Regions from separate parts of the Homo sapiens genome. Here region 1 is linked to region 2. The links come from fine-mapping of genetic effects on plasma protein levels. Region 2 holds a variant in brackets. A gene starts in the other region. All regions are shown on their reverse strands. Region 1 holds the start of TFPI (tissue factor pathway inhibitor). Region 2 has its middle 13 kb from the start of SLC19A2.

Evidence for each region. PIP is the chance, under the fine-mapping model, that this variant and not a neighbour inherited with it causes the effect. Protein levels are from antibody-based Olink assays in UK Biobank. Linkage for the fine-mapping came from a reference panel and not from the study's own genotypes, which makes the PIPs less certain.
Region 1: TFPI starts here. The variant in region 2 is fine-mapped to the plasma level of the TFPI protein (UK Biobank, PIP above 0.99).

The regions. Positions count from the first base shown.
Region 1 is chr2:187,551,354-187,556,743 of GRCh38, reverse strand. It overlaps TFPI (tissue factor pathway inhibitor), which reads left to right and starts at 2,309. Exons shown (of 8, transcript NM_006287.6): 1 at 2,309-2,544.
Region 2 is chr1:169,496,277-169,501,666 of GRCh38, reverse strand. No RefSeq gene overlaps it. Among named protein-coding and RNA genes, the nearest start is that of SLC19A2, 13 kb to the right of the region's middle. The variant C/T (reference allele first, on the strand shown) is at 3,251.

The DNA.
Region 1 (5,390 bases), not on the chromosome of region 2:
CTGGGCAGAGACGCTCCTCACTTCCCAGACAGGGTGGCTGCTGGGCAGAGGGGCTCCTCACTTCTCAGATGGGGCGGCTGCCGGGCGGAGGGTCTCCTCACTTCCCAGACGGGGCCGCCGGGCAGAGACGCTCCTCACCTCCCAGACGGGGTCGCGGCGGGGTAGAGGCGCTCCTCACATCCCAGACGGGGCGGCGGGGCAGAGGCGCTCCCCACATCTCAGACGATGGGCGGCTGGGCAGAGAGGCTCCTCACTTCCTAGATGGGATGGCGGCCGGGAAGAGGCGCTCCTCACTTCCTAGATGGGATGGCGGCCAGGCAGAGACACTCCTCACTTTCCAGACTGGGCAGCCAGGCAGAGGGGCTCCTCACATCCCAGACAATGGGCGGCCAGGCAGAGACGCTCCTCACTTCCCAGGCGGGGTGGCGGCCGGGCAGAGGCTGCAATCTCTGCACTTTGGGAGGCCAAGGGAGGCGGCTGGGAGGTGGAGGTTGTAGCGAGCTGAGATCACGCCACTGCACTCCAGTCTGGGCGCCATTGAGCACTGAGTGAACCAGACTCCGTCTGCAATCCCGGCACCTCAGGAGGCCGAGGCTGGTGGATCACTCGCGGTTAGGAGCTGGAGACCAGCCCGGCCAACACAGCGAATCCCCGTCTCCACCAAAAAAATACGAAAACCAGTCAGGCGTGGCGGCGCGCCTGCAATTGCAGGCACTCAGCAGGCTGAGGCAGGAGAATCAGGCAGGGAGGTTGCAGTGAGCTGAGATGGCAGCAGTACAGTCTAGCTTCTGCTCGGCATCAGAGGGAGACTGTGGAAAGAGAGGGAGAGGGAGACCGTGAGAGGGAGAGGGAGAGGGAGACGGAGAGGGAGAGGGAGAGGGAGAGGGAGAGGGAGGAGAGGCGAAACTTTCAAGAAAGAAAATCTGATTGGCTGAGCTTGCCTCTACCTGAGCTACAGATTCCTCAAAAGTTTAATCAAGGTCCATGGTGGTACCAAGAAAAAAGGACTTTCCTCTACAATCTGAGTGAGATGATAGCTTTGATTGTGGTTGAGGGGCAGGGCATGAGGTAATAGGAGATAAGTTATTAACATGATATGAAATCCAGAACATGAGTGAGAAGGCAGCATGGAGGAGGATTTATGCATTTTTGCTCTAAAGGCAGACTGCATGACATTAGAATCACAGCTCCACATACTGAACTCGATCTTCCTAGACATGTGAAATGGGCATACAAAGAGGACCTTCTTTATAAGCTAGTTGTGAGAATTAAATCGATAATTTATGTTCCAGTCACCACCAAATAATTATTCAATATGTATTAAAAACACTCAAGATGAAAGGTTACCTTTTACAGAGAGGTCTAAGGAAAGCAAGAAAAATTGAAGGCACAAAGAATCTGAGATGCAGAAGCAAGAAACTCCTACATTTTCTGACCAAATGTCTTCAGCCTTCCTGGCAAAGTAGATTCTGCCCATTTATTAGATCTCTAGTGATCTTAGTCTGATATGACCATAATTCCAATACAGAGACAGTACGGATGAACCTCAATGATAGGGACATACAGCAGAGACTCTGGTTGACATCTGTAAATATTTACATATTTTGTAGAATAATAATAATAGAAATACAGAAAACAGCGATAATGATAGCCAACAATTATTGGAGGTTTGCTACATGCTGGGTCCTGCCTTAAGTACTTTTTATGTATTAAGCCATTTAGTACTTACATCAAGCCCAGAAACTTTTATTATCGACATTTTAGGAACAAAGGAACTGAGGCATAGTGAATTCAAATAACTGGGCTGAGTAGCCAAGTTAGCAAGTAGCTAAGGTAGGGCTCAAAGCCTGACACCTGCAATAGATAATGCATTACATTGTCTCACTAAGAGAGACCTCCAACGGTAGCCCTCAGACTTTTAAAAAAAATAAATACATTGACAGTGGGTGAAACAAATGAAATAACTTGAAGAAGAAACAAACTGCAAAAAAGCTTATTAACAGTGTAATAATAAATATGTAATTTTTTAAACCCTAACTCTAGGGGGAAAAAAGCATTCTTTTTCAACTGATTACAAAAACAATCCTGGAAAGTAAAGGAAATAGCTATTCAAAATGATCGTATCTGAAATCTTGGTGTAAGCTGTTTCCTTCATCTGTTTCCTCCACTAAAAAAAAGAAAGAAAGAAAGAAAAAAGAGGTTTAGACTAAATAGAGTCAGAGTTGCAGTGACCTAAACAGGAAGTTGGGCTATTCCCAACTGCCAGTGATCTCTGAAGCCGACTCTGAGGCTCCCTCTTTGCTCTAACAGACAGCAGCGACTTTAGGCTGGATAATAGTCAAATTCTTACCTCGCTCTTTCACTGCTAGTAAGATCAGATTGCGTTTCTTTCAGTTACTCTTCAATCGCCAGTTTCTTGATCTGCTTCTAAAAGAAGAAGTAGAGAAGATAAATCCTGTCTTCAATACCTGGAAGGAAAAACAAAATAACCTCAACTCCGTTTTGAAAAAAACATTCCAAGAACTTTCATCAGAGATTTTACTTGTGAGTACCTGGCAATATACTGTCTAGCCCATAAGAAATAACTTTAATTTCTTTTTCTCGGGGGAAAAGCAGGGTGCTGAGAGGCAAAGAACTGATAGGGGAGGATCACTGTTTATTTGCGTAAAATGAAAATCAGCCCTTCCCTGTAAACAGAGTAAACTCAAACTGCAATCCAAACTTGAGTTCTCAGCATTTTGCATTTAGTTCTTAAGCAAATTTATGTGCAATTTTTATGATTTTAAACCATAAACATTTTTGTAACTAATTGGTGTATGTAGCTTTTTTATAATTTGAAGATTGTAGTAGAATTCTTTACTAATTGTGCTTGGTTAATTGGAAGTTCTTGAAAGTTCGGTTTACCTTTCCATTTTATTTCATAACATATAAAATAGAGACTGTTATTCTTCTATTCAAATAATCTTTCAATACTATTAGTTGATGATATTTAAAATGAGGTATAACCATTAAAATAATCGTAATCTAAATGGAATATTTTATGCCAGCATTAACTAATCTCTCTAAGGAAATATTTTACAATTCTCCAAAGACCAAAGGTCATATTCTGAGATACTTAAACGAGAATACTTACGATCAAGTCTATGTTGTGCAATTTTGTAAATTAAAACAATAGATAACATGCCTACATGATGTACTGTTATGTTCCTGTTATAAAATGTTTGCTTCTAGTGAAAAATGAAAGCATATAATACAGCAGTAAACAACCACAGAAATATAATGAGAGAAACAATTATTTAATTATGAAAAAGCACTCATTAGTATAAAATAATTACCAAAAATAAGGGCCAAGAGTACTACCATGTGGGAAAAAAGAAAAGATAAGCAACAGCCACACTGTGACTCAGTGCTCTGGAAATTAGTCACAAAATGACTTTGTATAACATGAGATAATATAAACACAAAGGGCAAAACTCAAGCAGGAAACATACTGCCCAGAGAGTCATATTTCATGTGTAAAAGCATAATATTTACATGAAAGGGGGAAAGTTGTGACAATTTTGAGAGATACTGCAAAACTTTTGAATAAAATGTGTTAGGGAGGCAAAATCTCCCTAACACATTTTAAAGATTATTTTAAATCTATCATTCTAGTGCATGATTATTTCAATATACAGTGTCCATATCTCATCTAATCCTTAAACTAAAGAGGGATAGTCCCTGAAATTTGGCTGAGTTTGAAATGTTAATTTGTGGCCTACAGCTTAATAAAATTATATGAAATATAATTAGGGATCAACAAAGATTGAAAAATATTAATGTAAATACAGATAACTAATCAAGTAATTTTAAAATAAGAGTAAAACTTTAAAATATTTATTTTTACTGATTTGAGTAGTTATATTGGAAAACCAAGTTTTTCTACTTCAAGTGACCACAGAATCTTGTTGGAAAAGTTTAATGACATATACTACTATTTGATTCCTATCTCTATTAGGTATACTGAATTGGACAAGTTTTTGTTTTGTTTTGTTTCTTTGTTTTTAAGGTACAGTCTGATATCTTTTGTTTTACCACCAATGACTAAATCAAAACTCCTTTGGAAATGTGGTTCCTGTCCAAATGGATTATGTTATCAACTGGTGTTTGATGGTCTGACTGATTGTCCATTTATCAGTCAGATAATCATTTAAGGAAATGATTATCATTTGCTTGTTGATTGTACAACTATTTTGACTTAAATCTTCTGTCATAAAACTTATTGTTAAATTAATAATACATAAAATGATAACATATTTTGTAATAAACTCTAATTTTCAAAACAGCTTAATTATCTTAAAAATTAATTTTCTAATCTTTAGAAATCTTTTGTTTACATCTTTCAAATTCAAGAGGTAAGTGGGCAGGATGGCAAACTAATGGAGAAAAAATGCCAACTTTAGAGACTTAATTTAATGCCAGAGTGCCTATCCATCTAACCAAATAGTAAATATGCTATCAATTCCTTAGGAATGGTTGGCTGATTAAATTCAGTGTCACAAAATTTTAAGGTATCTTTCAACTGATATCTCTACCTAATACAAGAAAAAAAATGCAAAGTAAACATCCTTACAAAAAATAAAAAGGAACAGACAATATGAAAAGTGAAGAAAATTACTTAGACTAGGATTTTCAAAAAAATCTTATCAGTATAAATTAATTAAATTGAATTATAATATAGGTTAAAATGGGTTAATTATATCATCAATTTATTTTTTTCTATGTGGACATGATCTAAGAATTGTACTACAATACAACTCATCTATTCTCAATAAAGGCCTTCTACAACCAGCCATCCTTTTTTGTTTACCATCTATAGCAATTAACTCATTTTAGGAATTAAATTTGGCAGGCTGCCTTTTTAAAACACAAATATATTTTCATGCATTAGTGTCAAAGGTAGATTCTGCTATCTTTTATAGAAATATAGCAGTACTATAATTCTTTCTGATTGCTACAATGTGCATTAGGAGAAACTTGAATTCAATAGACATGTGTTTCTGGATATCAAATCTCACCAGAAACAGGGAAGTGTTCAAGTGTTTCCAGCAAGTTCTCTTCATAATAGACCATCTTTCCTGGCTTTCTGAAATCCTCACTGACTGCTTTCTTGGTGTTATGTATCAATTCCGGGGGCCCAGTCTTCCCATTACCTTTCTCTCCCTGTCTTCACTTCTCCAAGTGTCAGGTGCCAAGTAGAACCACAGCCTGAGATTCAACTACCAGTAGCTACCAGTTGCTGAAGGCAACTTCTTCACCTCTACTTTTCTTCTTCCTCAAACCGACAATAACAGAAAGTATGGGCCCATGTCAAATCCACTGTTTTCTCTTTAAGCCTCTATTTGGGATGC
Region 2 (5,390 bases):
CCTAGTTTATTCAGAGTTTTTAGCATGAAGGGCTGTTGAATTTTTTCAAAGGCCTTTTCTGCCTCTATTGAGATAATCATGTGGTTTTTGTCATTGGTTCTGTTTATGTGATCAATTATGTTTATTGACTTGGGTATTTTGAACCAGCCTTGCATCACAAGGATGAAGCCGACTTGATTGTGGTGGATAAGCTTTTCGATGTGCTGCTGGATTCAGTTTGCCAGTATTTTACTGAGGATTTTCACATCGACATTCATCAGGGATATTGGTCTAAAATTCTCTTTTTTTTGTTGTGTCTCTGCCAGGCTTTGGTATCAGGATGATGTTTGCCTCATAAAATGAGTTAGGGAGGATTCTCTCTTTTTCTATTGATTGAAACAGTTTCAGAAGGAGTGGTACCACCTCCTCCTTGTACCTCTGGTGAATTTGGCTTTGAATCTGTCTGGTTCTGGACATATTTTGGTTGGTAGGCTATTAATTATTGCCTCAATTTCAGAGCCTATTATTGGTCTATTCAGAGATTCAGCTTCTTCCTGGTTTAGTCTTGGGAGGGTGTATGTGTCCAGGAATTTATCCATTTCTTCTAGATTTTCTAGTTTATTTGTATAGAGGTGTTTATAGTATTCTCTGATGGTAGTTTGTATTTCTGTGGGATCAGTGGTGATATCCCCTTTATCATTTTTATTGCGTCTATTTGATTCTTCTCTATTTTCTTCTTTATTAGTCTTGCTAGTGGTCTATCAATTTTGTTGATCTTTTCAAAAAACCAGCTCCTAGATTCATTGATTTTTTGAAGGGTTTTTTTGTGTCTCTATCTCTTTCAGGTCTGCTCTGATCTTAGTTATTTCTTGCCTTCCGCTAGCTTTTGAATGTGTTTGCTCTTGTTTCTCCAGTTCTTTTAATTGTGATGTTAGGGTGTCGATTTTAGATTTTTCCTCTTTCTCTTGTGGGCATTTAGTGCTATAACTTTCACTCTAAACACTGCTTTAAATGTGTCCCAGAGATTCTGGTATGTTGTGTCTTTGTTCTCATTGGTTTCAAAGAACATCTTTATTTCTGCCTTCATTTCGTTATTTACCCAGCAGTCATTCAGGAGCAAGTTGTTCAGTTTCCATGTAGTTGCATGGTTTTGAGTGAGTTTCTTAATCCTGAATTCTAATTTGATTGCACTGTGGTCTGAGAGACAGTTTGTTGTGATTTCTGTTCTTTTACATTTGCTGAGGAGTGCTTTACTTCCAATTATGTGGTCAATTTTAGAATAAGTGCAATGTGGTGCTGAAAAGAATGTATATTCTGTTGATTTGGGGTGGAAAATTCTATAGATGTCTATTAGGTCTGCTTGTTGCAGAGCTGAGTTCAGGTCCTGGATATCCTTGTTAACCTTCTGAGTCAGGACAAATATCCTTACAGTCAATTCATTTATTGATTGCCTATTAAGTGCTAGGTACTGTTCAGGTACTGAAGATAACAAAACAGACAAAATTCCTACTTGAATGGAGTTTATTCACAAGTTGAAAGAAAGAGACAATAAACCATAATAAAAATATATAAGATATTAGATAATAAGTCCTATGGCAAAAATAAATCAATAGCAGGAGCTGAATATTTGTAGTGGGGAGGAAGTCAACATTAAAAAGGATGGTCAGGGGAGGCCCTAGCTTGATGTTTGAGCAAAGAGCAGAGGAAGTGAGGAAGTAAATACCACAGACATATAGGAAAAAAAAAAACTTAGAAAGCAGAAAGAACCATGAATAAACATTTTGTAGTAAAAATATGCAGGTAGTGATCCAGGATTGACAAGGAGAACCAGGTGGCTGAAGCCAAATGAGCAAGGGGGAGAGCAGAAGTTGAGATCAAAGAATAAAATGGGTGGGGAAAGGTGGAGAGAGACAGAGGGTGGGGAATAGAGTGGCTATTTAGGTCTAGCAGCCCTTGGGCTCATTTGCTGAATGAGATGGGAAGTTATTGGACAGTATTGAACGGAGAAGAATATCATCTGACTTGTGCTTTAAAAGAATCTTTGTGACAGCTATAACAAGAAGAGACTATAGGGGATCAAGGATGTTAGCAGGAAGTCCAATTTAGCTGCAATTACAGATATTCATATCAACTGTGGTAGCAATAAAAATGGTGAGAGTGGTGGAATTCCGGCCATATTTTGAAGGCAAAGTCAATAGGATTTGCTAATGAATTAAGCAGTATGCAATGTAATAGTTGTCTCCCAAGACTATGGGTAAGAACACTACCCACTGAAACACTGGCAGTGCTTTTTAAAAGCCCAGTGTTGGGCCAGGCATTGTGGCTCATGCCTGTAATCCTAGCACTTTGGGAGGCCGAGGCAGTGGATCACCTGAAGTCAGGACTTCGAGACCAGCCTGGCCAACATTGTGAAACCCCATCTCTACTAAAAAATACAAAAATTAGCCAGGCATGGTGGCAGGCACCTATAATCCCAGCTACTCAGGAGGCTGAGGCAGGAGAATCACTTGAACCCTGGGGGCGGAGGTTGCAGTGAGCAGAGATTGCACCACTTCACTCTAGCCTGGGCAACAAAGTGAAACTCCATCTCAAAAAAAAAAAAAAAAAAAAGCTTAGTGTTGTCAAAATTATTCTTTCTTTTCTATCCATTATTAACAAATTAACTTTGCATTCCACTGTATGTGAAGAGCTGATTTCTGTGAGCACAACATGAACTTTGTTATCTGATATGATTAGGCTTTGTGTACCCACCCAAATCTCATCTTGAATTATATTCCCCAGCTGTTGAGAAGAGGCCTGGTGGGAGGTGACTGAATCATATGGGTGATTTTCCCCAGTGCTATTCTCATGATAGTGAGAGGGTTCTCACAAGATCTGATGGTTTTATAAATGGCAGTTTCCCCTGGACTTCTCTCTCTCTCTCTCACCTGCTGCCATGTGAGATGTGCCTGCTTCCCCTTCTGCCATGATTGTAAGTTTCCTGAGGCCTCCCCAGCCACGTGCAATGTGTCAATTAAATCTTTCCTTTAAAAATTACTCAGTCTTCAGTTGTATCTTTATAGCAGTGTGAAAACTAATACATCATCCTTCAGAATATGTCCTCCATGGAATGTTAAATCCAACTAGCAAGAAACTCCCTGTGCATCTCAGCTCGTGTGAACTCCCACCCCACCCACTCTCACATTTCATGGAGATACCCAGCTCTCTCAGTCCCTTCATTACATGATACCTCTGGGTCCCCTCATGGCTTCCCTTCCTTCTCTAAGCAGCA[C/T]ACACCCATGGTTCATCAACAATACTTACAAACCCTGGGGAAAACTCTTGTCTCCAGCCTTCTGCTCCTCATTCTTACCCCCTGAGAAGCCCCCAACCTTGAATTAGTCTAGCACTCACACTCTCCGTGCTACACCCAGGCTGTAACATATACACAGACCTAGCTGGGCAATTTCTATTCACATTCCTTGTCAGTCGCTCCCCACATATGCTATTTAAACTTTCATATTCTAAGGTAGAACCTGTCTCATCCTTGTTTACCTTTTTTTCAGCAAGTACCTTGCCTCTTATCACATAGGAGAAATAGATAACATTAGGGAATGTTTTCAATGTCATCTCCTACCCCCTCCTAGTGCCTATTTATCTACATTTTCATCCACCTTAACTCCTTCCCTGGGGAGCCTGAGGCCGTTACAGGAAAGGGGTCCCAATCCAGACCCCAAGAAAGGGTTCTTGGATCTTGTGCAAGAAAGAATTCAGGGTGAGTCCTCAGTGCAAAGAGAAAGCAAGTTTATTAAGGAAGTAAAGTGGTGGAAGAACAGCTATTCTATAGACAGAGTAGGACATTCCTGAAAGTAAGAGGAGGAACACACTCACCCTAGGTACAATGCTTGTATTATATGGGGAGATGTGTTCTGCTACTAGGGTTTGTGATGAAGGATGAATTTTCTTAATTACTATATTTTTCAAGAATTGATACTACTGTCTTTAAAGCAAAATTAGGAATGCCTTTATTCTCCAGATATCGGGATACCCGGACACTCCTAAATCTGGGTGTGTTTAGTAAACATTATTAATTTGTCCCCTTAACCATAAACATCTAAGAGCTAGGATTGCCTAACTTTTTTAGAATGCAGCCCAGCAAGTCTCAGCCTCATTTTCCTAGCCCTCACTCAAAATGGAGTCATTCTGGTTTGACCACCTGACAGGGTGAATTTTCCTTTCTTAGTCAGGTCACACCTTATATTTCTGTTTTGGATCCCAGTACCTCCATACCTCAGGGACTTGTTTCATATGTGTGATTACATATGTTTGTCAAAACTTATCAAATATATATTTAATATATACTTAAAATGGGTGATATTGGACAAAAATTATACCTCAATAAAGTTGTTTAAGGAAAATTTGGTATACTCTGGATCTCTTCTTTTTCCTCTGCTCATGAATATGCTCTAGTCTCTGACAAAATAAACAAAAGCCAAATTTGAAAACGTAACTGGCATTTGCTGCCTGCACAGTATTTAAAGAGCTCCTACTTTGTGCAAGGATCTTTCCTAAGTACTTGGAAGCTGGCCCACTATGGTACTTAGATAATAATAGATCTCCTTTTTTTAAAGATTAATTTTGTGCTAGGTACTATGGAGAACATTTATCATATATAATCTTATTTAATCCTCCCAACTACCCCAAGAAGTGGATATTATTATCTCCATTTTACATGAGAAAACTGAGCCTTAGAAGGGAATGATACCTTGTCCTAGGCTGCCAAAAGTTATAATGGTGGCTAGGTCCTAAACCTAGGTCAGCCTGATGTATCCCACCATTAAGCTCTTTATATGCTAAGCCAGGTGATGAGGTTTTAGATAGGGTGGGAGTGGGGAGGTAAGATATCAGAATATTCAGATGCTCACAAGTTTCATTAATTTCTCTTTCTTGTACAAAGTCCCTGTCCTCACTGATGGGTACATATCAAAGTATCCTTTGGAGAATAAAGAACTGAGGTTCAGAGTTCTTGGTGGACCTCCCAGACACAAATTCTTGAATCTGTAGATCTTCTCTTGTATTTCACATTAGGAAGAGCTTCTGCTATGGAATGCCAATGGAAAGCTAAAGAAGAAGAGGTTAGAAATTAAACTGATATGAGTTATATGCAAAAGCATGAATGTAGACCTCTCCTGAAAGGATGTTCATACTGTAATACAGATAGGTCTTTTTCACCCTGTGGTTCATGACAGACTCTAAAGATGGTTTCACCTAAAGATCTCTACACCACAATAGAAGAACTTGGCTAACTATAAGGATGGAATGCTTCATCTATAGCTAAACGGAATGTTATAATACCTGTAAATGAGCTGCAAAAAAGCATTAGTGAAGGTTGAAAGTATAATTCATGAGGACTCAGAAATGTGTCCACCAAACAC